Linked DNA regions of Homo sapiens. The protein of the gene in region 1 purifies or fractionates together with the protein of each later gene. This does not show direct contact. Each region holds a gene or a part of one and is shown in the gene's direction. Other genes may lie near its edges. The genes, in order: FAHD2A and BOLA3.

What was found.
Region 2: the proteins of FAHD2A (region 1) and BOLA3 purify together in Homo sapiens (affinity purification with mass spectrometry; 3 studies listed by BioGRID and IntAct, with this or other methods). This does not show direct contact.

What each region holds. Positions count from the first base shown.
Region 1 is NC_000002.12:95,392,233-95,409,655, forward strand, and holds the start of FAHD2A (oxaloacetate tautomerase FAHD2A, mitochondrial), read left to right. Parts: upstream 1-10,475; 5' UTR 10,476-10,640; exon of another isoform or gene 10,641-10,760; intron 10,761-10,767; exon of another isoform or gene 10,768-13,170; intron 13,171-13,320; 5' UTR 13,321-13,326; coding exon 13,327-13,571; intron 13,572-14,708; coding exon 14,709-14,925; intron 14,926-17,423. UniProt on the Homo sapiens protein: Tautomerase that converts enol-oxaloacetate, a strong inhibitor of succinate dehydrogenase, to the physiological keto form of oxaloacetate. It is thereby required to maximize aerobic respiration efficiency by preventing succinate dehydrogenase inhibition.
Region 2 is NC_000002.12:74,136,216-74,147,648, reverse strand, and holds part of BOLA3 (bolA-like protein 3), read left to right. Parts: intron 1-2,345; coding exon 2,346-2,460; intron 2,461-5,288; coding exon 5,289-5,377; intron 5,378-11,433. UniProt on the Homo sapiens protein: Acts as a mitochondrial iron-sulfur (Fe-S) cluster assembly factor that facilitates (Fe-S) cluster insertion into a subset of mitochondrial proteins. Probably acts together with NFU1.

The sequences.
Region 1 (17,423 bases):
CCCAGGAACACAGCATGTGACGCCAGGTGGCACTTTTTCCCAGTTTTGAAAAATCACTAAATACAGTAAAACATCCAGAAACTAAAAATAAGGCCCCAAGGAGCCAGGCATCCGTTATTTCCTGACAGCCAACCAGGATTTAGAAATCCGCAAGTTTCTTGCTTTGTTGACAAACTTTCCCAGCAGAAAACTTCCCAAGTAGGTAGAAGTGTGTTCTGGGCAGAGCAAATGGGCCCCAGAGGAGAAGAATCACTGGTCTCCTCCTTTCACCCCCACCGTGCCCCCACCCCATTCCCTGCCCACTCCAGGGCCCCATTCCTGCTGCCCCTGCAGATGTGGAAAAAGCGACAAGACACTGTTTGGCAGGGACAACCATCTATCCCATCTATCCCACCCGATCCCCCGTCTGCCCATTGCTTCATTCATTGAAACAAAAACCAACAAAAAATAAGTTGTGCACCCAGCACTGTGCCAGGGAATGGGGATAAAATAGCAGAATACCTGCAAAGCCTTCCCTGGTGGAGCCTATACTTTTTCAGAGACAAGACGTTAATAAATTAAATCCTATGAAAAGTATAAATTTACACCCGATGTCATGATCAGGAAGATGAGGCCTATGGTTTGATGAGAGCTTTGGGCCAGGCGCCATGACCTGGGTGCTCCACCAGGGAGCAGCCTTTGAGCCCAGCTTGCAGGATGAGGAGGAAGGGGCTGGGGAAAGGGGTGAGGGATGGAAGGGAGACAGCACTGCCAGGGGCTGTGGCCAGATCCCAGGCACAAATGCTGGGGAAATGGGAGAGGCCCACAGGGCAGAGCCACCCTGAAGGTGTTGGCCTCAGCCTGAGAGCAGCACAGAGCCACTGAGGAGTATTAAATTAAATTGGTGTTTGAAAACCCCACTCTGACTGAAACATGGACACCAGATTGGAAAGGACCCGAGTGGATGCAGAGAAACCAGAGAGGAGGCTATTCTGTTTAGCTATTGCCACATAGCCACTGAGCTTTATCACATGTCACAAGGCCGGGGCTTGACTGGGCCCACTAGGTGATTCTTGGCACGGTCTCTCAAGCCGATTGCAATTAGATAGCAGCTGAGGCAGAAGTCAATTGATAGTTGGAGTGTTCATGGCCAATAGGCATGAGCTGTGGAGCCTCTGGAAGGCACTAATAGAACCATCACAGCTGGACTGCTAGGATTGTGGAGCCAGTCTAAACCGTCTCCTGGAGACAATCACTCTTATTTTGAGAAACAGCCTCTTGCTTTGCTGTTGGGCTTTGGTAAAGACTGAAAACCTAACCATGGGCTGTCAGGCGACCACATGGCCTGAGCTTCCTAAAACAATCTGTATTGTCTGACCCACCTAGTCATAAGCTGGACGTGCCATCAAGTGGTAGTGGCAGATAAGAGCTGGAGCTCAGGCAGTGGGGAGGGGATAGCTAAGCTGCAGGAGCAGGTGGCTCAGGTTCTTTTGATGGCAAGTTCAGTTGCATTGCTTCCTCTCCCTCCATCCCTGCCTATGGCTTTCTGCATGTTCTTTAGGATCAGTTTACTGAGGAAGAAGAAACTCAAGCAAGACTTACTAATGGATCTGTACAATCGGCCTATACCACCCAAAAGTGACAAACTGCACATGGCAGCCCCACTCAGGGATGACTCTGAAGGGCAGTGGTGAAGGAAGTCCTCCCATTAGATAGAACTTTAAGCAGTATATTTGGCTGTCTGGAGTAAGAGATGGCGGAAAGTATGGTGGCAGGAATGGGGTCTATGCATGGTCTCAACTATGTGGATTTCCCCTTCTCAAGGTGGACCTGGCTGACGCTACTGCTCAGACTCAGTCAGCCAACAACAGAGACCAATGTCAAGTCCCTGCTATGGCACCATTCCCCATGGAAACTGGCCAGCCACCTGGTGTCAGGTTGATTACACTGGACCTCCTCCATCATGGAAGAGGCAGAGGTTTTCCCCGATAGGACACATATTCTAGAGGGTTTCAACTTCCCTGCCCAGCATCGTCTATGGACTATAAGAAGCGGGAGTGCTTCTCTCACGAGTACATCTAATAACCTCACTTACAGCAGTTTTGTTTCTTGTCCTGGCCACTTTGAGCTCTGCTGGCTTGGAGATATTAGTACTCAAAGGGACAGTGCTTCCCCCAGGAGACAGAGAAGTTAAGACTGCTTCCTGGTCATGTTGGGTTCCTTATGCCACTGAATCAACAGGCAAAACAAGAGGGTTGATCCAGTGGCTGCAGCGATGGGTCGATCCAGTGGCTGCAGCGATGGGTCCTGATGACCAAGGGGAAAATTTGGTTCCAAGGGAAATATGGTTGCTACAATAGATGCAAGATTCCAGCGAGTTTCACCAGTGTAAAACTACAGCATCCTGTCTGCCGTCTCCAGCGAGATCTGGCTCTCATGGTCTGTGGGGTGGGAGCTTCTTCCTTGGGTGCTTCCTTGTATCTTAGGAGTTTGGCTGCTTTTTTTTTTTTTTTTTTTGAGACAGGGTCTCCCTCTGTACCCCAGGCTGGAGTACAGTGGCGTGATCATGGCTCACTGCAGCCTCAATCTCCCTGCCTCAAGTAATCCTCCCAGCTCAGCCTTCTGAGTAGCTGCAACCACAGATGCACACCACCATGGCTGGCTAATTTTTTTATTTTTTATTGTAGAGACAGGGTCTCACTATGTCGCCCAGGCTGGTCTCAAACTCCTGGGCCCACGAGATCTTCCTGCCTTGGCCTGCAAAGGGCTGGTATTACAGGCATAAAACACCACGCCCAACTTGGCTGCTCCTTATATCTAGTTCTTCCTTAGTCCTTAGAGTTCTCTTTACTTGTTACCAGCCTATCCCTCATGGCTCCAATCCCCTGTCATAGTTGCTACTTCCCTGTATTAAACTCAGTCTGTTCCAATCCCTGTGTGATTTCTCTCTCCTGATCAGACCTAGACTGATGCACTGTCCTGAGAGCCAGGAGGCAGCTGGGTCACTGATTAGAACCTAGTTGTGATGAACTGGATTGTGCCCTCTCCTCATCCACATGTTGAAGTCCTAACCCCAGTACCTCAGAATGTGACTGGATTTGGTGATAGCGCCTTTAAAGAGGTAATGCAATTAAAATGAGGGCTCTAGGGTGGGCACTAATCCAACCTGATTGGCATCCTTATAAGGAGAGGAAATTAGGACACATAAAGAGACACAAGTGCCATGTGTGCACAGAGGGACAACCATGTGCAGAGGCAGCCAGGAGACAGCCACCTGTAAGCCAAGGAGAAAGGCCTCAGAAGAACCCAGCCCACCGACACTATGATCTCAGACTCCTGGCCTCCAGAACTGAGGTGACAAATTGCTGCTGTTTAAGCCCCCCAGGCTATGGTACTTTTTGCAGCAGCCAAGCAGGCTGACAGGCTAGCTGTGGAAGGAATGCAGGGTCCTTCCCCCATACTCTACTTGTCAGAAGTGAATTGCTAGGTTCCGCCCGCAATAAAGGCAATGGACATGGAAGACATGTCAAATAATTTGAGGACATGTTTTTAAATCACCACAGAGGCCATAGTGGGAGTGCAGCCAGCAGGGTCAAATAGCGTCTTGGCCTGGATGGTGGGAAGTCTATTGGTTCAGATGATGTGGGGAGGTAAAGTTGCCAGGATGTGAAGATGCAAATGGGAATGACGTGGGGAAACGGCAAAGACTGAATTCTGGCTTGGGGTCTGCCCAGGTGGATGGTCAGAGGATGCCATGACATCCTCTGAGATACAGAAGAGGACCACATTTGATGTGGAAAAATCATGAGTTCATGTTGAGCTTGTGGTGCCTTTGAGACATCAAAATGAAAGTGTCCAATAAACAGCTGAGTTTATGGAGATGGACACATGTGAGTCTTCTTTCTGTACGTGGCAACTAAACCATCAAGCCTGTAGTTGATGTTGTGAAAATGTGGCCTGAGGGATCCTACTGAGTGAGAAGAGACATAAGTACCGTGCTTTGAGAGGCAGCAACATTTATAGGTTGGATGGAGGAGAGTGAGTCTGAAAAATGACTGAGATAGAGGAGGAAAATTCAAGACAATGTGATATGATGGAAGACCTATCAATAGAGACTATGTTTGGCTGCAAGTAACAGGGATCCAGAATAATAGTAGCTTTTAAAACCATAGATTTGTTTTTTCTCTCTTGCATAAAAGGCCAACAGAGCATTGTTTGGCATTGGTTTGGCAGCTCAACAATCCTCAGGGATCCAGCTCCTAGCTCCGGTAACCTGTCACCTCAAGGCCAGAGATGGCCCTTCATGCTCCAGCCATCACATTCACATTTCAGCCAGCAGAAAGAAAGAAGGGTGAAGAGTAAGGGACTGCGGATTCTTTTTAAATAATTCCTTTAACTCCCAAACTTTTCTATTTAGATCTTGCTAACCAGACTAACTCTCATGGTCTCATGTAGCCTCAAAGCATGACTGAGAAATGAATCTCTCTATTCTATGCAGCCACATATCTAGCAAATAAATGGTGTTTTACTGCTGAGGAAGAGGGAAAGAAAGAATACTGGAGGGCAACCAGTCACCTCTGCTGGGAAGCCATGGGAAGGCAGTATTTAAAGCACAGGGAAATGGCCCAGAGAGGCCAAGAGTGCTTAGAGGTAATGATAAAAAGTGTCTTTTGAGCCGGGCATGGTGGTGGGTGCCCCTGTAGTCCCAGCTACTTAGGAGGCTGAGGCAGGAGAATCGCTTGAACCCAGAGGCGGAGGTTGCAGTGAGCTGAGATCGCGCCACTGCACTCCAGCCTGGGTGACAGAGCGAGACTCCATCTCAACAACAACAACAACAACAAAAGTGTCTTTTGGTCTTAGCACCATGGAAATCACTGGGGACTTAAGTAAGACTTGTTTCAGTGGAAGGATGGGGGCAAAGGTCAGATCAGGATGAATGAGGAATGAATGGGAGACAAGGAAATCAAAGCGAAGATTCATATGGGAATTAAGCTCCTGTAGGAGACTTTCCAAGGAAGGTTGGTGAGCGATGTGGGAGGGGCAGCTGGAGGGAAGTGGGGCCAAAGAAGAGTTTTGCTTGGTTTTGTTTAAGATAGAGAGATCTGAGCATGGGGGAAGGACGTGCAGAAGAGGCAGAGCCCTGCTCAAGAGGAATACGGGGTAATTCTCAGTGTAAGGCAACCAAGGTGCAGGGGCTCCTGCACAGGACTTGAGGCCTGGAAAGGGGTCGTTCCTCATCAGCGGGGCTAGCACATGGCAGGTGCCGGTGTGGAGGGTCTGAGGGCATGGGAGTAGGAAATGGAGGGCATTCACCCCAAGTGAGGGCTTCTGTTTTCTCTGTTAAACATGCGAGTTACCAACCAGAGCGAGGGTGAGGCAGAGAGAGGAGCAAGCCGCCTGTGGGGCTGGGCGTGCATTGAGGCAGTGACAAAGAATTCATGGCAAAACCAACCCACATCATAAGGGTGGCCATAGAGAAAGCAGGGTTCAAAAGCTTTTATTTCCCCTTTGATTATTCAGCCACATTGTCAATGGAAAAAGTCACAAAATGTAGAAATTTAGCCAGGAGAGCTTTATCTCTTAGAAAGGGTTGCCACCTGCAGGATGGACATCCCACAGGTGGGGAAACGTGGCCTTTAGCAGAAACCAAAAGCAGGCACTTCAGAGGAAAAAGCGGAGAGGCTGAGGTGTATGCCCAAAGACAGGAACTATACATACATATTCAGTAAGTTATGAGACCCTTATGAATATTTATGAGGGGATCCTAACACATGCAACTGAATAATCCTGTGTGTTGCATACAACCCATGTTCACTTTGGGGTGGAAACATAACATTAAATGCCTAAAATTAGGCTCTATAGGTCAAAAGGTAGAAGAACATTAGCCAGGTGCAGTGGTGTGTGCCTGTGGTCCCAGCTACTTGGGAGGCCAAGGTGGGAGGATGGCTTGAGCCCAGGAGGCAGAGGTTGCAGTGAGTCAGCATCATGCCACTGTACTCCAGCCTGGGCAACAGAGCCAGGTCTGCCTTAAAAAAAAAAGAACACAAAGGTACTCAGTGCGCAGCCTCTATAAACTGGCCAGAACCAGCCCATGGTCAGTGGTGTCTTATCAGGAGAAAATTACTGAAGTCAGTCTCTTGTTCAATCAAACCTGTAGTTATGCTTTGTGGAATGGAGTCTGGAGTCTGGGGGCATCAGTTAGCATCTGACAATTGGTAAGTTAGAACATTTATTATTTTAGTGTAGGGGTATGTGACTTTTGCCTGGCATGGCCTTAGTCTTATTTATAATTTCATAATTTATAAGCCACAAAGACTCCATTCCATCAGTCTTATGATCTCTGTTTTACAACCCTGGATTTGTCCAGCTCTCCACCATCTCTTGTCCTAGGTACAAGCAGTTTCTCCAAGGAGGTGTCTACACCCAAACAACCACTGGCCTGTTTCCTGTCACTACACATTCATTTGCATTTCTAGTGTACTGTAGCCCCTTCTTTTTTTTTTTTTTTTTTTTGAGATGGAGTCTCGCTCTGTTGCCCAGGGTGGAGTGCAGTGGCGCAATCTCGGCTCACTGCAAGCTCCACCTCCTGGGTTCACGCCATTCTCCTGCCTCAGCCTCCCAAGTAGCGGGGACCACAGGTGCCCGCCACCACGCTTGGCTAACTTTTTGTATATTTAGTAGAGACAGGGTTTCACCGTGTTAGCCAGGATGGTCTCGATCTCTTGACCTCGTGATCCACCCGCCTTGGCCTCCCAAAGTGCTGGGAATTCAGGTGTGAGCCACCACGCCTGGCCTGTAGTCCCTTCTTATCCATGGTTTTGCTTTCTGAAATTTCAGTTACTCAAGGTCATCCATGGCCCAAAAATATTAACTGGAAAATTGCAGCAATAAGCAATTCATAAGTTTTAAATTGTGTGCTGCTCTGTGTACTGTGATGAAATCCTGCACTGTCCTGCTCCATCCTACCTGGGACAAGAATCATTCCTCTGTTCAGCTTTTCCATGACGTCTGCCCTCCTTGCCCCTTAGTCACCAATGAGCTGGCTCCGTGATTAGATCCACTGTCGTGGTACCGCAGTGCTTCTGTGCAAGGCACCATCATCTGACTTCATAATGGCCCCAGAGCAAAAGGGGAGTGGTGTCGGCATTTCCGATATGCCAAAGAGAAGCCTTCCTTTATGGGAACGCTCCTGACTTAAGGAAATAAAACAAAAATCACATAATGAGGTTGCTAAGAGCTACAGAAAGAACGAATCTTCTATCCATGAAATTGTGAAGAAGGAAAAAGAAATTTGTGCCAGTTTTGCTGTCGCACCTCAAACTGCAAAAGTTATGGCTACAGTGTGTGAGAAGCACTTAGTTAGGATGGAAAAGGCATTAGATTTGTGGGTGGAAGACGTGAACAGAAACATATTCTGATTGAACAGCAACCGTGTAGCACCAGGTTAACTTCATCTGGATTAAATTTGATCACTGGCATGTATATATAGGAAAAGACGTAGCAGATGTAGGGTTTGGTACTATCTGCAGTTTCAGGCGTCCTCTAGGGGTCTTGGAAAGTACCCCCCAAGGATACTCTATACAAATGAAATAATTCCATATGTACTCATTTTTAATCTCTTTTTCACTCTGAATAATTATCTTGATATATATCCATGTTGCATCAACAATTTGTCCCTTTTCATTGCTGGGTAGTATTCCCTAGTGTGGCTATAACAGAGTGTTTACACATTCACCTGTTAATGAAAAATTGAGTTGTTTCCAGTTTGGGGATTTTGTAAAAAGGCTGCTGTGAACATTTCTGTATAAGCCATTGCATAAGCATTTTTTTTAAATTTCTCAGGTAATTACTATAAAACAAAAAAACAAATCTGGATTATATAAGGAGCGAATTTATTCCAAAGGATTGTTGTGGGGGTGACCATTGCAATAGGGAAACGTTGCAGTGCGGCCACTCGCAGGCTTCCCATATGATCTGCAAGTGTCTCAGAGGTTAGGCAAAGGGCTGATCTTGTATAGGGAGGCGTAAACGTGGCTAGAAAGAACTGTTATGGGAAAGTGGGCTGAGCAAGAGTGTCACGATCGAGGAGGTCTTACCCTGCGGACAGCCTGTTCTCAGGAGGGAACCTCAGGAGGGCTGCGGGTTGGCACAAGCTGTGGGTGGGCCAAAGCTCAAGGGCTTGGAAAAGGAGAGAATCTGAACCAAGGTTTGGTTACAGGCTTTTGTTCTTATTGATCTGTGGGACAAGCAGCCCAGCTAATCATTTATGAGGCCAAGAATGGGAATTTAGAGGGTCTGTGTCTGGCCTGGTCACAGATAAACAAGGGAGCATCTGGGAGTCTTATCCAGGTTATATAGAAAGTCACTGGTTCTTTCCAGTAGGGGGTTTTCTGGAACAAAAGAGTGGTGGGATTCCTTAACCTTCACTATTTCTAGAAGCAAAGGGCTAAGGTAAAATTCAATACTGTCAATAGTCAGGATTGAAATGGCTACATCATATGGTAGGTGTATGTTTAATTCTCTTCATACACTGACAAATGGTTTTCGATCGTGGTGGTACTATTTTATAATCCCATCAGCAGTGTACAAGAATCCCAGGTCCTCCACATTCTTGCCAGTACTTGGTATAATCAGTCTTCTTTGTCCATTCTAGTAGGTGTGAGATGGTGTCACATTGCGCTTGCAATTTGCATATCCTTAATGATTAATGATGTTGAGCATCTTTTCATGTCCTAATTTTTTCTTTCTTTTTTTTTTTGAGACAGAGTCTTGCTTTGTCGCCCAGGCTGGAGTGCAGTGGCACGATCTCGGCTCACTGCAAGCTCCACCTCCCGGGTTCCCGCCACTCTTCTGCCTCAGCCTCCCCAGTAGCTAGGACTACAGGCGCCCACCACCACGCTCGGCTAATTTTTTGTATTTTTAGTAGAGATGGGGTTTAACTGTGTTAGCCAGGATGGTCTCGATCTCCTGACCTTGTGATCCGCCTGCCTCGGCCTCCCAAAATGCTGGGATTGCAGGCGTGAGCCACTGCGCCCAGCCTTCATGTCCCAATTTTCTGTCTGTATATCTTATTTGATGAAATGTCAGTTCAAATATTTTGTCCATCTAAAAAATTGAATTGTTTGATTTTATCTACTGACTTTTAAGCATTCTTTCTATATTCTGGATACAAGTCTTTTTATCAAATATAGCCTTTACAGATATTTTCTTCCAGGCTGTAACTTAGCTTTTCAGAAAGTCTTTGGGAGCTATGGCTTAGTGAAACCCTTGTGCCAGGTTCTCCTCAGCGAATCCCCCTGATCACAGCCACCCCCATAGGTTCCATTTCAATATCTGTGGTGACCTTCTGCAAGCTAGGCTGAAGTCCCAAGCTCCAGACCCATGTCTCCAACTGCCCACCGTTCAATGCCCTTTGGATGTCCCATGCAAATCGGAGCTCACCATCCTCTCCCCAGACCCGCTGCTCCTCCAGGAGCCCTGTCTCCATGAACGGCCCTGCACCTACCGAGCTAGAGACCCAGGAGTTGGCCTTGTACCTCCTTCCTTCTCACTTCCACCTCCTGTCATTCAGAGCTGTCAGTTCTTCCTCCTGAACATCTCTGGACACTCACCTTCTCCACCACGCACCGCACCACCATTGTTCTCAACCGCACCACCCACCCAGACACCTTTCCTCAGACGGGTGGCCAGAGAAAAACTTCTCAAATAGAAGTCGGGACATGGCACGCCACTGAGAACCTTCCAGCGGTCTCCTGTGCACGTAAACAAGGTCCAGACTCCTTCGTGGGACAAGTAAAGCTCTTGATGATCTGGTCCTTGAGTAATGTGGGGGCCACTTGTACAGAGCCCCTCACACTGTTCAAAGTCGGCAGCTGAAGAGCTGAGCAGTAGCTGTCTGTGGAGTTCAGCTGCCACTCCCTACACGCCTGCCCTCTGCAGGGGATGGAGTCCCGTTTCCCCACTTCCCCACCTGCGCCCAGCAGTGCAGGTGAAGGCCTGGCTGCGGAGAGTGGCTGGGAAACGCTGCGCTTTGGGGTCAGGAATGCCAGCTCCACTACTCACCGCCTGTGTCACCCTGGGAAAACAGCTCTGGCCCCAGGTTCTCCATAAGTAAAACGGGGGCAGTCATCCCTCCCCTCCTCAACGACATATGTCAGAATCAGAAGCCACAAATCATTCTCTGCCACCCAGCACGCTGCCTTGGTCTCCTAGACCACTTTCCCCAACAATGGGAAAGGCGCCAGGCCCAGAACAAGGCCGAGACCGGATGAGGCCAGCGAAGCGCCCAGGGACAAACCTTCGGGCAGCGCCCACTCTCGAGTTCAGGCAAGTGCAGGGTCCCTCCGAGAGAGAGCGTCTCCAGAGAACGCGGCTGGCGCCTGGCTGAACCCGTAGCCTGAAGACCCGCCGGAGCCGCCCGCCCCACGATGGGCCCGCCCCTCCGGGATTGGCGCCCTGCTAGTGGCCATTGCCTGTGACGTCACAGGATCGCGCCCGCTTTTCTCTCGGGTGATCCGGCCGAGTGGCCCTGGGTTAGCAGCTGCTGCATTTCCCCGGCTGGCTGCGGTCACTGGTGGCAGTGCTCAGGCGCCCGCCGCCCTTGACCTTCGGCCCCGCGAGCTCTAACCCTACAGCGCAGGAAGATCGGCCGCCGCGGCCAGGTAGGACGAGCCTGGCTGGGTCTAGGCCAGAAGGGTGTCCGTGGCGCCGGTCTCCCGCGGAGCGCAGAACTAGTACCGGATCCCCAGCCGCTTCTGACCACACAGACGGGGCGGACCTGTGTGAGCACTCACTAACTGTCGGGGCTGGAGCTGGGCATATGGGGAAACTGGGGGACCGGCACGGGTTCCAGGCGAGTGGACGGTGGGATGGAATCCGACGTGCACACCCATGTCTCAGGCTTTGTTTGATGGAGGCTACTGTTTCCACCTCATGTCGCCGCCCCTTTGCTTATGGACTCTTGCAGAGTTGGATTGAGCTCGGGCTGTGTGATATAGTGGTTGTTGCAGAAGCCCCAGGGCCACTTTCTGACTAGTACCTTGGGCACCTGACATCATCCCTTTGAGTCTCAGTGTCCTCTTCTTTAAAGTGAGGGCGCTCTACCTGAGGAGATTGCTGTAAGGTTGGAATGAACCTGCATGTGTGTGTCATGTGGGAAGGGAACAGTCAGTGGGGCCTGGGGTTCTCTTGGAGAGCTGGTAACCAGCCTCGTCCCTGAGGCAACAGCCAGAGGGCGCCTGTAGTTTCCCCACGCATGTCTGTTAGCAGTTACGGCCTCTGGAGGATCTCCTGTGGGAGGTCCCTACTTCTCACTACAATCTTTAGAGACTTTGGAGGATTTCCTATGGAAGGTCCCCACTTCTCACCACAACATTCTGGGTTAAAATGGCCTTGGTAGGGGGATGGGGGCTGAAGCTGGATTTTTTTGCTTGCATTACAAGCTTCTGAACCAAGGACTTCATGTCACCTGGACTTGGATTCACATCCCAGCTCCTTCCTCTCCTAGCTCTAGGACTGTGTAACCTTGGGCAAATCTCTTAACCTCTTTAAGCCTTAATTGTTTCATCTGTAAAATGAGGCTAACAGTACCTACCTTCCACAATTGTCGAGAATTAAATCAGACATTGTAGGTAGAGCACTTAATAGTTGGCATTCAGCGGCAGCAGTTACTGTTATGTTAGCATGTGGAGTGTCTGAGTGTGTGCACATTGGCTCGAACAGCCTTTTGACAGTGGCACAGTTGGTGCTTGTGTAAGACAGCAGGGCAGAGAAGTCAAAGCCCTCGGTTTTCTAGTCAAACTGGTGGGCCACAACAGTGGTGACCTAAGTCTAATGAATCTTCAACTGAACAAGGCAGATTGAATCTCCAGGTGAGGACCAAGAGTCTGGGGATCAGCTGCCTCCACATTTTTGGGCATAGAAGGCTGTACAATACCGCCTTTGTTGTAAGAGCAAGGAACCATTCAGGGAAGGCACCATGTGGTAAGGAATAGAGGCCAGACGTGGATTAAGAACAAAACAAGAGAATAGTGTTTGTCTTTAAGTGGAGCCTTGGACTCAAAACAGGATCTGAGCCCTGAGGATTTTTTTTTTTTTAATTGAGATGGAGTCTTCGTCTGTCACCCAGGCTGGAGTGCAGTGGCGCGATCTCAGCTCACTGCAACCTCCTTCCCCTGGGTTCAAGCGATTCTCGTGTCTCAGCCTCCCTAGTAGCTGGGATTACAGGTGGCTGCCACCACACTCGGCGAGTTTTTTGTATTTTTAGTGGAAACGGGGTTTCACCACGTTGGCCAGGCTGGTCTTGAACTCCTGACCTCAAGTGATCCACCCACCTCGGCCTCCCAAATTGTTAGGGATATCACGCATGAGCCACTACAACTGGCCCTTGTGGGAAGGCACAGCCATGTCTCCTGAAGTTAACAAGCACTAAGCTTTCCCAAGTAGTGAAATGTCAAGCCCCTGCTTCTGTCACTTATTTGTTCATTCAGCAGAAAGTCACTGAGAGCCTTCTGTGCACCAGGCACAGTGCTGGGCAGTGAAAGAGACAGACATGTGCCCTGGACCCAGGGAGATGACAAGTGATGGCTGTCAGGCCCAGACCCTGTTGTTTGTCTGCAGCCTCTTCCCTCAGGCAACTTGTTCTCTATCAGGAGAAACGAAATAATTATTATCTGGAGAGGCAGGTGGGGGCGCTGCTCCTAGAAGACTGGGACAGCCTGGTAGAGGTTCTAGCTTGATCATGTGAGCAGTGGAAACCATTTTAAGTAGGAGGTTAACAGGACCAAAATAGCATTTAAAAAATTGTTTATGGCCACTGTGAAGCCAGTTTCACCAGCGTCACTTGCCCATGCTGGGCTGCCACCCAGCTAATTCCTGGTCCTGCTCATTTAGCCCAGCTCAGCTCACATCACTTCCTCCAGAAACTAGAGAAGGGTAGAGCCCCTGACCATCTTCACAGCATTAGTCCTGATAGCTGAATCTTACGTCAGTTGTTAACATCTGTGACCTGTGCAGGGAGAATGGCAGGGCTGAGTTTCACCTACATTGTTTCCCCAATACCTACAGCAGAGCCAAGCACAGTGGGAACTTTCAGAAAGCACTGGTTGAAGGAACGCTGGAATCCCTGGGACTTACTGCGTAGCATGTAGTAGTTGCTCCTCTAGAAAAGTTTCACCTTATGAAGTATAGCAGGTAAAATACAAGCCTGGACCACTTCCCGTGTGGTATGCAGGGAACGGTTGATGGGGCAAAGGGCCTCGGGCTATAGCCCTAGGAATTTCAGGGAACCTGATGATGGCTCTGGGATCCTCTGTCTCCTGGATCCTGCATTTTTCTCTGCAGGCTCTGATGCTGGTGTCTGGTAGAAGAAGGTTACTCACAGTTCTGCTGCAGGCTCAGAAGTGGCCCTTTCAACCCTCCAGAGACATGAGACTAGTGCAGTTCCGGGCACCCCACCTGGTGGGGCCTCACTTGGGCCTGGAGACAGGGAATGGTGGAGGGGTTATCAACCTCAATGCCTTTGACCCCACACTCCCGAAGACGATGACGCAGTTCCTAGAGCAGGGAGAGGCCACCCTCTCAGTGGCAAGAAGGTAAGTAAGTGGGCAGCATCGCCCTGAAGCAGCTGCCCTGGTCCCCCTGCACCCTCCCCGCTCTGGGAAACAGCACCAGCAGGTAGCTCTTTTGCAAGGGAGCAGAGTAACCCCACCTTTCCTTTTCTCCCGTTCTCTTAAAAGATCCTTAGAAATCTTACATAATAACATCTTCAGTTTTCAGAGGAGAAAACTGAGAGCTAGGGGAGGTGATTAACAATTTGAAGGCCATACATGTGGTGCTGGAACCAGGACTCTATACTTCATCACACTGCCTCCTCTGGGAATGAAGTCCTGGACTGACTGACGGGTCTGGGCCCGGGGGTCCTAAAAGGCATCTTATGCAGCTGGGGGAGTGATATAGACTCCCAGCTCCTACAAGGAGAGAGGACTGCAAGGAGGTTTTCTATAAGACACTTGGTTCCTGGGTTTGGACTAGATTAGGTGAGAGTGTCCCTGAAGCCTGGACCCCTATAGAATCTGGTCTAAGGAGCTGATGAACAATAAATTAAAAATACTTTAAGATGTCATTTTCATCTATTAAAATGGAAAAAAATACAAATGTTTCACAGCTCACAGTATTAACAGTATGTTCCCATATTGCCATATTCTGCAAAGACTGGAAATCTCCATGCCCCTCATTAGGGACTTGGGTATATCTCTATAGAGCAGTAATATGCAGCCACAAGAAATAAAGAGGACACTCTCTATGTATTGTTACATATTGTTAAGCAGAGATCTCCAAAATCAGTTGTTTTTTTAAAAGATGTAAATAGTATGCTATCATTTGCATACAAAAGGGTGGGAGAAGAATATCCATAGAGTAGCTGCGAAGAGCCAGGGGAACGGGGTAACCGGAAGGGGAAAGGGAAACCTTTCCATGTATTCCAGTTTGTATCTTTTACATGGACATGAGTTACCTAAGGGGGAGAGGAAATCAACACTGGATAAATAAAAGCCCTGCTCTGATAGCAAAGGACAATAGTCAGTGATTTTCACACTGACTCTGATGGTTGATAGAGCTAGGAAATAGATTTCAAAAAGCAAAACCTGTAGCTGCTGCAGGATCTGCCCAGCCTGCCCGGGATTGCCCACCTGTTCCCAGCCAGACCCTCTCACCTGCTCTGGTCTCTACAGAGCCCTGGCTGCCCAGTTGCCAGTCCTACCACGGTCGGAGGTAACCTTCCTGGCTCCAGTCACACGACCAGATAAGGTGGTGTGTGTGGGCATGAATTATGTGGACCACTGCAAAGAACAGAACGTGCCCGTGCCCAAGGAGCCCATCATCTTCAGCAAGTTTGCCAGCTCCATCGTGGGGCCCTATGATGAGGTGGTCCTCCCACCACAGAGCCAGGTCAGTGTCTCCCCACTGCCCTCCCTAGTCACTGGGCCCATCACAAGGGCATTCTGAGCTCAGTATTGAGCCTACTGGAGCCACCTCTCGCTCAATAGCGCATTCAGCAGAAACTCTACAGGATTGTACACACAGTAGTAACACTGGCCTTGGAAAAAAAAAGTTAATGTACGTGTTTTCCTGGTTACAAAAGCAATGCACCTTCACTGTAGATAATAAAATAGAGATAAACATTAAAAAATTATGTCACCCATAATCCCACTGCCCATGGCTCGGAATATTAATGTTTTTCTGTCTACCTTCCCAGTGTTTCTCCGCTCCTGTATATGTTTATACTGTACATATACTTACCTTTTACTTAAGACTCCATCAGGAGCATTTTTTCATGCCATTAAGTATTCGCCCTGACACCACGGAGTTTGTTATGTAGATTAGTTTATTCCTGAGTACCTTACTGCTGGATACTGTTTCTAGTTTTTGGCTTCTATAAATAAATGTTGCAGTAAACATCCTTATGTGGAAAAGGCTTTGCATGTCCATTAATACATTATTATTTCCTTTGAATAAACCCTTTGGAATTTAAATATGTCAGCGTATAGGCAGTATTTCAAAATTTTTGAAAAATTCTGCCAATTGGCCTTTTAAAAAATTGTAAAAGCAACTTACACATCCACCAGTAGTGTATATACCCTTTCTAACACTGGTTACTTTTTCTCTCAGATTTTTATTTTAGAAATGTCTTGAAAATTATAGAAAAGCTGGGAAAATAATACAGTGAACACTCAGATAACTTTTCCACCTGGTTTCATTGTAAACATTTGGCCATATATCCTTTTTCTCCCTTGTCTTCTCCCTGCCCTCCACATGGCAAACACACATTTTTTTTTTTTTTTTTTTTTTTTGCAGGGTATGGGGTGGAGGGGACCTTTTAAAACACATTGGAAATATTAAGACAATTTAGTCATAAAAACGTAAATAGGCATCTTCTAAGAATAAGGACAATGGCTTGCATGACCATCCCACCATTATCACAACCAAAAAAATTAACTTGAATAATATTTAATATGAAATCCAATTGCCCCAATTCCCAATCGGAAGTACTGCTGACTTCCCCAAAGATAACTTCTAATTTGGTTACTTCGTTTGTTGCTCCATGATCAACCAAGGCCACACACTGTATTCAGTTATATCTCTTTAGTGGTTTCAATCTAGGACAGGGTTCCATAGACTTTTTCTTAAAGGGCTGTATTAGTCTGTTTTCATGCTGCTGATAAAGACATATCCGAGACTGAGCAATTTACAAAAAAAAGAGGTTTAATTGGACTTACAGTTCCACGTGGCTAGGGAAGCCTCACAATCATGGCAGAAGGCAAGGAGGAGCAAGTCACATCTTAGGTGGATAGCAGCAGGCAGAAAAGAGCTTGTGCAGAGAAACTCCCATTTTTAAAACTATCAGATCTCATGAGACCCATTCACTATCATGAGAACAGCACGGGAAAGACCTGCCCCCATGATTCAGTCATCTCCCACCGGGTCCGTCCCATAGCACGTTAGAATTATGGGAGCTACAAGTTGAGATTTGGGTGGGGACACAGAGCTAAACCATATCAAGGGCCAATTAGTAAATATTAGGCTTTGCGTGTCATATGTTCTGTTTTGCAACAATTCAACTCTGCTGTTATAGTGTGAAAACCACGATACAGAAATGAATGATGGGTTTCCAATCAAAGTTGATTATAGCAGATGTTGAGCTGGCCATAGTTTGCCAACTCCTGCTCTCAAACAATACCCCCTGCCCTTTCCTTGAAGAATCCAGTTGTCTCATAGCATGTTTCACATTCTGGGTTTGTCTGGTTGTTTCTTCATGATTAGTGTCAGGGTAAGCATTTTTATCAAGAGATCTACAAAGCAGATGTTATACATTTTCCATCGTATCCCACTGGGAGGCTCATGTCAGTGGTCCCAGAATTTGACCACTTGGTTTAGCTGACATTCACTAGGTCCCTCCATTGTGAAGATGCATTTCTATTTTTGTAATAAGCAATCCATGGGTGGTAGTTTGAGATCACATAACTATCTTATTGCCCCATAGCATCTCATCCAGGGATCCTGTGGTCATCCTGACTGAATCTATTATTGCACTGGGGGTTAGAGAACAATGACCTTTTTTTTTTTTGAGACAGAGTCTCACTCTATTGTGCAGATGGAGTGCAGTGGCATAATTTCAGCACACCTCTGCCTCCTGGGTTCAAGTGATTCTCCTGCCTCAGCCTCCTGAGTAGCTGGGATTATAGGCGTGTACCACCACACCTGGCTAATTTTTGTATGTTTAGTAGAGACGGGGTTTCATCATGTTGGCTAGGCTGGTCTTGAACTCCTCACCTGAGGTGATCCACCTGACTTGGCCTCCCACAGTGCTGGGATTACAGACGTGACCCACCACTCCCAGACAAGATCAATGACTTCTCAATCATGCCTTCTGTTTTTATTGGCTGGCA
Region 2 (11,433 bases), about 21 Mb from region 1:
AGCGACAACGGCATTCGAAATTTCAAGCTCTGGCGCGCTCTAGGGGAGCTCCCGAGCTGGGTGGAGGTTGGAGGTCAGGCGGACAGACACATGAACAGTCATAATACTGCGGGCACAGGAAAAAAAAAGGATTGGTTTACCGAGCAGAAGACAGGAGTCATAGCCCAGAGTCAAGGCGTGGGTGCGAGGGACTGCAGCGGGGCCGGGGCCTTGGGAAGGTCGACTGGGCCTCTGACCTTGATCCTCCTCCAAATCCCACACTACCGGAGCAGAACCCAAGCAGGGGGCACTTCCCACGCGCTCTCCTAATCTCTCCCCCTTTCTGAACCATCCTTTGCTTCAGCTCATACCATTCTTTCTCTTAACTTTCATTTTCCTTCTCCCCTGGTTCTGAACCTGCCTGCCCTGTGCATGAAGAGAAGTTCTTCCACTGCGGTGACTTTCAGCGTGGACAGTGATCATCTGGGGATGTCAGTTGATTGTTCCACTAAAGGCCGCTGCCCACAGATCCGCTAAGATGAAAGGCTTCTCCCAAGGATTCTGCAACGCTCACCTCTCTCACCCCTTAGTAGCTGCCGATTCTGTCTGCCATCTGGTTACTCTCTGCCTTTACCCTCAAGATTCTGCCCCCAGAAGCAGCTCCACCCCACCCTCACTCCTGGCAATCCTGTCCAGCCTCTCAACATCGAGTTTCTGTCCCTCCACACAGCAGGCAGACAATCACACTCTGGACCTTTCTCCTGTCTTGCATTTCTGTCCCTAATTGACTAGTTCTTCCCCTGCTCATTCATTCATCCAGCACCAAGTGCCTCTGAGGGCCTGCCCTGGGGTCAGCTCTGGGATGCTGCCGGACTCATTCCTGGCCTATAAGACCAGTGGTGAGAGAGCCAGTGCACAGCTCATTTTAAAGGAGGTGCTCTGAGATTCTGTGACACAGGACCCTGCTCTGAGCTATCAGGAAGGACTGAGGGGTAGAGGGGTGGGACCTTCAGCACCAGCACCCATGAACGGCCCTAGTGTCCTCCAACCTGTCATCCACGTCTAGTCAGGGACCAGTGCCCGGTGCTTCCATCATTGTAATGCCTCTTACTTGGGCATCTCTCCTGACTCGCTCCAGAAGGCACTGTTTCCTGCAGGTTACTTTGGTCCCATGAGCCTGGGTTCTATCACCTGGAGTCCCATCTCCTGTCCCATACAGTCCACAATCTTTAGCCTGGCATTCAAGGCCTGCCACACTCCATTCCCAGTCTGCCTTTTCAGCATGCACTCAGCCCAGCCAAGTGACTGCCGACCTGCTTTTCTGCTCCTTCACTACTAACTGTTGAGACGTGTTCCATCAGAAACATGGGCTCCCCTGGCCGGGCGTGGTGGCTCATGCCTGTAATCCTAGAATTTTGGGAGGTTGAGGTGGGTGGATCACCTGAGGTCAGGGGTTTGAGACCAGCCTGGCCAACATGGTGAAACCTCATCTCTACTAAAAATACAAAAATTTGCCGAGCGTGGTGGTGGGTGCCTGGAATCCCAGCTACTCAGGAGGCTGGGGCAGGAGAATCGCTTGAACCCGGGAGGTGGAAGTTGCAGTGAGCTGAGATTGTGCCACTGCACTCCAGCCTGGGTAACAGAGCAAAACTCTGTCTCAAAAAAAAAAAAAAAGGAAACACAAACACAGGTTCCCCCATGGTAGCCATTGGGGAAGGGGTGTTGTTGCCAATGGTAAACAACCTACAGATACTCCTTCTTCAGGTTCTTTCATAGAATTCTGACTTTGCTCCCAGTGAGAAGGAGTGCATGATGAAGGATAGCTGGCTAATTGAGCAGTGGGCTGTGAGGTCACATCCCACTGGGGAGGGCGAGACATGTTAATCAGGCCTAAAGGCGAGGGAGTGTGGAATTTGGCCCCACCATCCAGGGCAGTGGATGGCCTAGTGGTATGGATCTGAGGCAGGCTATCCAGCTTTTCTGGCTCTGTATCTTACCGAATTCAACCTTGGGCACATTACTGTGTGCCTCAGTTTCCTTACCTATAAAACTATCGGCATAATAGTGTCACAACATTATATGGAAGCAAACATCTCTTGAATTAGGTTTGGGGCCTCTTGTCTCTGGAGTCAAATTGAGTTATTAACAATCATCCTGTCCCCGCCAATAAAAGTTTATTCTGTGTTTTGGGGCACTTACATGGACTCCTGATACCACAGAGCCCCTCTGACATAACCCATGGCTGTGCTGGCGAGGGCTCAGGGGCCTGCCTTGCAGGGGGAATGGCAGGCGGGCCTGCACAGTGGCCCAGCTCAGGGGCAACAGCATCTTCCTCTGCCCTGACCTTCCTCTCTGTTCTGTGGCAGCTTCCACTTCACCATCGGATGTTTGCCACTCAGACTGAGGGGGAGCTCAGAGTGACCCAAATTCTCAAAGAAAAGTTTCCACGAGCTACAGCTATAAAAGTCACTGACATTTCAGGTAAGGTTTCTCTCACTCTTCCTACGGCGCTTGGATAAGATTTTGCCCTTTGGAAGGACAGAGGGTCAGGGGCTTGGAGGAGGGGGCTTGCTGCTGGTGAGTGGCTTCTCAAGATGTGTTGCTGCTGGACAGGTGGAGCTCGGCTGCCCCCACCTCATGGGATGGCAGTCAGGATTCAGAAATATCAGAGGGAAACTGAGGACAAGGCGCAGCTGGGAGGACTCAAGGTTGCCAGCCTGGCTCAGCTCAGACAAGGTCCCTCTCAGTCACCCTAGAGCTGAGGTCCACAGTCTGTCATTTGACTTTGAATAGGTTTTGCTCTAATTTTCCCCCATTCTTCTGACACCCTAGGATATCAGAGCTGGAGTGGACCCCAGAAAGATTTTCTTCAGCTGCTTTACTTTCCCTAAGAGGAAATGAGCCCAGAGAGGCCAAAGGAATTGCCTAGCTCCTCATAGGGAAGAGACAGTGGAACTGGAACCAGAACCGGGACTCAGGGGAGACTCTGTCCTAAGCCCAGTTACCAGCCCCAGCCAAGCGCTGTCCTTCTCAGGTGGCCACTGGCACCTAGAAGTTCAGGCTGGCAGTGTGTTAGGAGCAGGCTGGAGAAGCAACTTCTGCATCCACAGGATGGGGAAGATAGGCCCTTTATCCACACACACACACACACGTACACACAGAACGGCCCGTGGCGTGGGCCGCTGGATAGGCATCAGTCTGAATCTCTCCATACCCAGAGGCAGCCTTTGCCACTCAGCATTGCCATGAGGGCTCACTGACTTTACTGAGAACATAACATTTCCAAGGATTGAGGAGAAAGTTTAGAAAGTAGATTTTATTCTGGAAACCACAGGAAATAAATCAATCTAAAGATCTGCTGGGGTTTTGGAGCAGTGGCTCATGCCTGTAATCCCAGCACTTTGAGAGGCTGAGGCAGGTGGATCACGAGGTCAGGAGTTCAAGACCAGCCTGGCCAACATGGTGAAACCCCCCCGTCTCTACTAAAAATACAAAAATTAACTGGGCGTGGTGGCACACGCCTGTAGTCCCAGCTACTCAAGAGTCTGAGGCAGGAGACTTGCTTGAACCCGGGAGGCGGAGGCTGCAGTGAGCCAAGATCATGCCACTGCACTCCAGCCTGGGTGACAGAGCGAGACTGTGTCTCAAAAAAAAAAAAAAAAAATCTGCTGGGGCCAGGCGCGGTGGCTCATGTCTGTAATCCCAGCACTTTGGGAGGCTGAGGCAGGTGGATCACCTGAGGTCAGGAGTTCGAGACCAGCCTGGCCAACATGGTGAAACCCCATCTCAACCAGAAATACAAAAAAAAAAAAAAAATTAGCCAGGCATGGTAGCAGGCACCTGTAATCCCAGCTACTCAGGAGGCTGAGGCAGGAGAATCGCTTGAACCTGGGAGGCAGAGGTTGCAGTGAGCTGAGATTGCACCACTGCACTCCAGCCTGGGCGACAAGAGCGAAACTCTGTCTCAAAAAGAAAAAAAAAATCTGCTGGAATGGTACATCAGGTGAGGGCTCTGCAGGAGTCTTGGGGCAATGCTGAGGCCTTGATGTTACCAGGTCCTGAACTTGCCCCAGGCCCAGGGCAGAGTTAGAGCTTGACTCAGCTGTGGCTCTGCGCAGTCCTGGACAGAGTGCAGAAGGGGAGTTGAGGCTGAGAACCTGGGTTTAACCAAAACTTGGACTCCTAGAGCACATTATAAGAAAAACAGAACAGGCCAGGCGCGGTGGCTCACGCCTGTAATCCCAGCACTTTGGGAGGCCGAGGCGGGTGGATCACGAGGTCAGGAGATCGAGACCATCCTGGCTAACACGGTGAAACCCCGTCTCTACTAAAAATACAAAAAAAAAATTAGCTGGGCATGATGGTGTGTGCCTATAGTCCCAGCTACTCAGGAGGCTGAGGCAGGAGAATGGTGTGAACCTGGGAGGCGGAGCTTGCAGTGAGCCCAGATCGTGCCACTGCACTCCAGCCTGGGCGACAGAGCGAGACTCCATCTCAAAAAAAAAAAGAAGCAGAGCAAAGCCTGTTGAGTACGTTGCACCTCTCACACAATGGCCTGGCTCTGTAAATCATGCAGGGGACATATTCTTGCCCATGTTATTTCATGCTAGAGCTGTGTGTTTATCATCAGTCATCAGCACCAGCTCTCCAGCCAGGTGGAGGAAAGCTCAGGCAGGGGGTGGATGGCCCACCAAGCTCTGCCTCGAGGGCTTCACCAAAAAGTTCTCCCCCCAAAAGCCAGGATGAAATCCTGGATGCTGTGCTGTGGACCCAGCAGTGCCAGAGACAGCCCCGAGCAGCTCCATGCATAGCATGTTTGCTGTGTCCCTGGCTCTCATGCTCCCCTGGTTCTTTCCTTTCTTTGGACAGTATTACACAGTTTTCAAACCAAATTGTAGTGTATTTTTGCACTTCAAAAACACTGATTGTTGGTCCTTTGGAAGCTGGAACGCTGAAATTCCGTCCTTCTCATCCTCTTCCGTGGCGTTTATTGGCCTAGTGAAAGGAAACACTCTACACTCCCTAGGTTGTCCATGCTTTGTGCCTTATCTTTCCTGCCCACAAGTGGTAACCCTGGGTGGTGCAGCTGCCTCGCAAAAGGAAGAGCACATTTTGGATTGTGGCAGCCTGTCAGGAGGAGCATGTGGTCAGATTGGAAGCCATGATCTTTTCCTAATGGTCTTAGCAACTTTCCTTTGTGCTGAATGATAATATTCAGACCTTTGGATTGTACAGTACTTCAAGGATATATGGGACCATGGCTGCCATGACTTAATAATTGAAATGCTTTTGAATCATGTTTATTTTAGGAGGTTGTGGGGCGATGTATGAAATTAAAATTGAATCAGAAGAATTTAAGGAGAAGAGAACTGTCCAGCAGCACCAGATGGTTAATCAGGTCAGTAGAGGCAACAGTGCCCCTTGCCACTGGCCTTCAGCCTCCAAAGGGGCCTGCCAAGCAGGGATGGTGGTTTTTGCCGTCAGTTGCAGGAGAGAATAATGCAGTACTGCAATCACGAAACAGGACTCAAGACCTGAGAAAAATCGAATCTGGGAGTATCTGCATTGTGGCAAATAGGAATTTTATTCAAAATTGAAGACAGGCCTCCCAATAGTGATTTTGTATGTCCTCGTATAATGCTACCTATGTTTACTGTTATTGTCACATATTGATGAGTATATCTAAACACAGACACTGCTAAAAGATACATGTTTTTGTAGATCTGAAGAGGGGTTTTTTGGCCTCTCTTTGGGACTGCTTTACAGATGAGTCAGTTGATGCATGGCATGAGTGAGAATGGCTGCAGCTGCCCCAGACCCAATGACAGAACATTTGGGTTCTGGAACATCACGTTCAACCAGCCTAAGGCTCAGTTTAAATATTATCCATATTTATTTTAATTTGGAATTTATACCAACTTTGACCCTTGTACCTGTACCTATGAATTTGCCCCCTCACTGGGTGTGTTTGGCATCGTTCTGGAAGGTCTTGCCATTGTGAACTAGTGTTATTTTTGTAAAGCACAGCACTGGTAATGAGCGTCTCTTCGGTGGCCTCTCATGCATTGAGTTCAGGTGTCCTAGACTGCTGTTCACGCATTTCCCCCCACCCTTCTCTGCGTGCACCCTCCCAGCCGGCCTCTGCCCGCTGGTCTCTCTCTTTCTCTATCTGGGCCTTTGCCCAGATTGGACCTTCTGCCTGGGTTGCCCTTCCTCCCGTCCTCCACTCAGCTCAAATGCTGCCTCCCCTCCCTCCCCAGCAGGGAATGAATGCCGTTCCCCCACCCTCCCCGGCCCCCTTTTTTGGCTGTCGGTGTTTTCCGTCTTGTGTCCTGAAAACGGACATCTCTGCTGTCTGACCCTGCAACCTGTCAGCCCTTTGTGGACCAGTGCCCTTTGGGATCCATCTTTGTGTTTCTCATGGAACGTAGCCCTTTGCAGTGGATGTGACCCCTACAGCCCTAAGGCATGCTGGTGGTCTGCTGGGTGCTCCATCACTGAGCCCTCCCGGAAACTCTTGCAGTCCCATGTGATCTCTGGGGTCAGAATCAAGGCAGAAGACAAGACAGGGAAGACCTGGCTGGCCAGATGATCCCCAACCCGTGGCACTTTGGGTTTTATTCTCAGATCTGTACAAGCCACCTGGTGTGACTGGACCCATAGGTGCTGGTAATTTGAGTGTGTCCCTTGGCCTGAAACCACAGTTACAAGTGGTTAAGGAAGCAGTTTCTGGAATTGGACTTCCCACTTTCAAATCTGGGCTTTGCTACTTTCTAGCCATGTGACCTTGAGCAAGTTTTTCAACCTCACCCTTTGCCTCAGTTTCCTAATTGAGAGTAACAGTACTTGCTTCAAAGTGTTGCTGTGAGGATTCGTGATAAAGTACACGTTGACCACTGACAACACTGCCCGACACATAGTAAGCCTTCCATAAATGTGACCGCCATCACCATCATTGTCATCTCCAACACTGGAAGGAACCTGCACCAGTCTGGGGTGGGGAAGGGCTGTGATTCCCACAGTTTGGGGGAGTGTCACCTCACGGTCTTGGGATTAAGGTGTCTTCTGGCCCCCTATAGCAACATGTGCCTCTCCTCACACTTCCTGAGTAGACAGCCCAGTCACTTGTCTTTCATTCCCCCTCGAAAGCAGGCTTACTGCAGGACGGGGCTGTGTCCCCCACACCTAACAAAGGACCTGGCACATGGAAGGAGCCCAGTCAGTATTTCTTGAGAGTTTGCAGAGAGTGAGGAGAGTTGGCTTGTGTTTTCTTATTGGCTTACCCATGGAAATTATGTTTTAGTATCTGAAAGGCATTCTGTTTTGGAGAACTCACATCCTGACATTGGGGCACTTTTTAAAAATATATACTTCTTTTTTTTCCCTCCCACAGAGTATCACTCTGTCACCCAGGCTGGAGTGCAGTGGCGCTATCTCGGCTCACTGCAACCTCTGCCTCCTGGGTTCAAGCAATTCTTCTGCCTCAGCCTCCCAAGTAGCTGGGACTACAGGCGCCCGCCACCACACCTGGCTAATTTTAGTATTTTTAGTAGAGATGGGGTTTCACCATGTTGGCCAGGCTGGTCTCGAACTCCTGACTTCAGGTGATCCACCTGCCTCGGCCTCCCAAAGTGCTGGGATTACAGGCATGAGCCACCATGCCCAACCTTAAAAATATACATTTTTATATTTATATAGAGATGGGGTTCCACTATGCTGCCCAGGCTGGTCTTGAACTCCTTGACGATCCTCCTGCCTCGGCCTCCCTAAGTGTTGGGATTACAGGCGTGAGCCACTGTGCCCAGAGCAGCTGCATCCTGAGTTATTCTAGAGGCCTCTCCTCTGCCCCCAGCCAGAACAGCCCTTCTGGCTCAGGACTTGGGGGGGTCATGCAGCTCCACACTGGATGTCTGCAGGCAGCTGACATGAGGGGGTCCCCTGAGCCTGGCCACAGTACATTCTTAGGGGGCTGACACTTGTGTTAAAATATATGGACTTGGTCATAGGCAATTTTAGATGATTTAAGTCTGGAGATGTTGGCTTTGACAGTCGCATGAGAAGAATGAAAATGAAAATCTTCAGGAACAAGTCTGTTGGCCGGCAGGGTCTGAGCCGGGACCTGGAGCTGCCCTGCTCAGGACAGCTGTTGGGAATGGGGTTCTGACAGGCACTGCCCTAGGAGGAGGCAGAGACCTGGAATCAAGGGGAAGGCAAGGTGGTAACTGGACTCCACTCCCAGGGCCAGCTGGTCTCTTCAGGAGTGAGGTGGGGGTGGGGTAGGTGCCCCATCCAGATGCTCTCATGCCCAGGCTGTTTGGGTGGGGGCCTGGTGTCCTGACGGGGTGAAGCTTGCCTCATCTATTTTGCCTACTCACCCTATGCGTAGTAGTGTTCATCCTGGTGCTGTAGAGTCAGAATTTTCTGCCCAAAAGGCCTGAAAAGGTCGCCCAACCCATCCGATACTGGCATCCCTCCTGAGCTTCCCATCAGACTGTCCCTGCGGGATTCCCTGGAGGGGGCGCCCCCTGTCGGCACCCTCAGGAATGGACTCGTTCCTCTGGGACCCTGCTGCGCGGGGCTCAGCCTCTCCCAGGGCCCAGTGCGTCAGCCTTCTCTTGGGAAATACTTACTGGGCATTTGCTGTGGGCCACGCCCTAGGAGGCCTAGATGTTGAGGGTTTTGTACCAGGAGCACCTCCCTACCTGTCCTCCTGCCATCCTGGGGAGGTGTCAGCAAGGGTAGAGTAGGTAGGTAGCCACGGTGATCACTGAGTTGCCTTTTGAGGTGGACAGAGGTGAGATTTGAGCCTCATATTGGCAAATATTGCATGAGGCATTGACCACAGGTGCCCAGCGTCGTGCCTGCCACGTGGAAGGCAGTTGCTAAACAGCTGTTGCCGTCTCCCTGCCTCCGGCCTCTTTCCAGCTTAGGGGATTGCCCTCCCCTAAGGCGCCTCCACCAATGTCTTTCCCCTGCTCAGAGCCTTTACGTGGCTCCCCTGGTTGCCCAGAATCCAGTCCAGTCTTCCTAGCCTGGGATTGCCCATTCTTCATGTGATCTGCCTCAGTCTCCCTGACATGTGCCTACCTCAGTGAATCACGGGAGCTTCCCAGCCTCTCCTCACTTTGCTGTCCTGGGGCAGATGCCCTCTCACTCTTGCCTGCTCCACCTCTGGCTCCAGCTCCAGGGCTGCCTCCTGTGTGTGGCCCTTGTGCGTCCACCCCAGTCACCAGTGCAGTAGCTCACCTCGAACACCGGAAGCAGGGCTGTGCTGGCTTGAGTCTGGCAGTCCTCTGCTGCCCACATTCAGCCCATTTGTGTTGGACTTAATGCTACTTTCTCTTTCATTACTTTCCCACGCCTTTTCCTCTGTGTCCCCAGCACCTACTATAGTGCTGTGGGCATAGCAGGTGCTTAAGAATGGTTATCCAAGCTGCATCTTATTACCCATGGGACTTCGGCCAAGTCACTTCCCCCAGCAGGGCCCCAGTTTCCTTAACTGTAGAGTGACTCAGGTGATCTCTAAGACCCTGTGTGGCTGTAAGGGACTGTAGTGTGTTTTGGGAAGCCCTCAGGGGCTGCACAGAGAGCAGGGAGAAGGCATCAGGGAGGGGGAGTGCGCAGGGCCTGAGTGGGTGAAGCCCAGAAGGTTCCTCTGTCCAGGGTCAGTCACATGAAGGTGTGACTGGGCCCTCACCCAGCCAAGGTGGATGTAAGGAGGAGAGGCTGGTTGTGGTCCAGGCACAGACACAGTCTCTAGGGAGCATTCCACGCCTGCAGAGAGCAAGTGGCCCAGGGACCTTCGCCCAGTGATTATATGAGGCTTTTTCCAGGGACATTTCTGCCTGTCCGCAGAGTTGAGGGCCCTGCACTTGATTGTGGAGCTGGAGGGTGTGCAGTGTAGGCCAAGTGGGGCAGCTCATTGTCCCCCAACACAACAGGAGCTCCCGGATCAGGGCAAGTCAGGAACATGATGGAAACCAGGTATGGCCAGGACCTCAGGATACCTGGGTTCATATCCTGATTCCATTACTCGCTTGTTTGCTGACTTTGGACAAGGAGTAGACTCTATTTTTTTTTTTTAATTAAATAAGGGGATGGGACTAGATTGTGTCTAAGGATCTATAAACCTGACCACATATATTAGGATTCTTTATATTGTAAGAGACAGAGACCAAATTAAAATTAGCATAAGCAAACAAAGGGAATTAATTGGCCCATGTAACAAAATTATCTGGTTTCTGGCATATCTAGATTCCTCTCTCTCTCTGAGCTTTCAGCTTCTTTCCCTGTGTTGGTCTCCTTTTCTCCTGCTAAAGATGGGCTTTCTCTCCTTGGTGGGAAACACAGTCCATGGCCACCTCCAATTAATTTCATAGCATGTTGGCCCAAGAAACAAGGCTCCACTCTCAGAAATCCCAAGGGAGATTCTAAGTGGCCCAATTTGGGTCATGTGCCACCTCGGTCCAATCATAGGCTGGGCCAGTGGCACATAATGACCTCAATATCAGACCAATTGGTGGTTCCACCAGAATTATACAATAGAGTGGAAAAGGAATTATTCCCCAAGAGAAGGAGATCACTAAAGAGACTAGAAAAGAAAAATGTCCACTCTAGTATGATTATCAGATTTTGGCCTAGTATAAAAGGACCTTATTTCTTCCTCTGTACTGATTATAAACTTGAGCGGTCCAAGCCCCACTCTGATTCTGTAACCTCACTTTCTCCCAGCACTACAGGGGCCAAATATCTATTTGACTCTGGTAGTTCCTTCAGATTTGGGCTCTGACACCATTTGTAGCCTTAAAACAAGTCCCATAATTCCTTTGAAACTTTATTTCCTGCTCTGACCATTGGGGAATTTGTGCTAATTGGTATGATTTTAAAGAACTGCTCATTTTAAAGAATGCTTGATGCTCGAAATAACAAAACACAGGAAACAGCCTAAAAGTTCGCTAGGGGACAGGTTGAAAAGTTATAATGCATTCATATAATGGAATACTATGCTGATGCAAAAAAGAATCAGGACACCCATATATGCCTAACATAGAAAGATCTCCAAGATAGATGTTTGGGGGAAGAGCAAAGTGTAGAGCAGGGGTGTCCAGTCCTTTGGCTTCCTTGGGCCACAATGGAAGAAGAATTCTCTTGGGCCACACATAAAATATACTAACACTAATGATAGCTGATGAGCTTTAAAAAAAATTTCAAAAAAAATCTCAAAATGTTTTATGAAAGTTTACGAATTTATATTAGGCCACATTCAAAGCTGTCATGGGCCGTGGGTTGGACAAGCTTGGTGTAATGTGTTTGAAATTTTAACCATTTGCGTTTTAAAAGGTCATGGGGTGAAATATATTAGCTTGAATATGCCTGGTGAATATGCATTTTTAAGTCCCTGTAAAGATACACAAGAAACTGGCCAGGTGCAGTGGCTCACGCTTGTAATTCCGG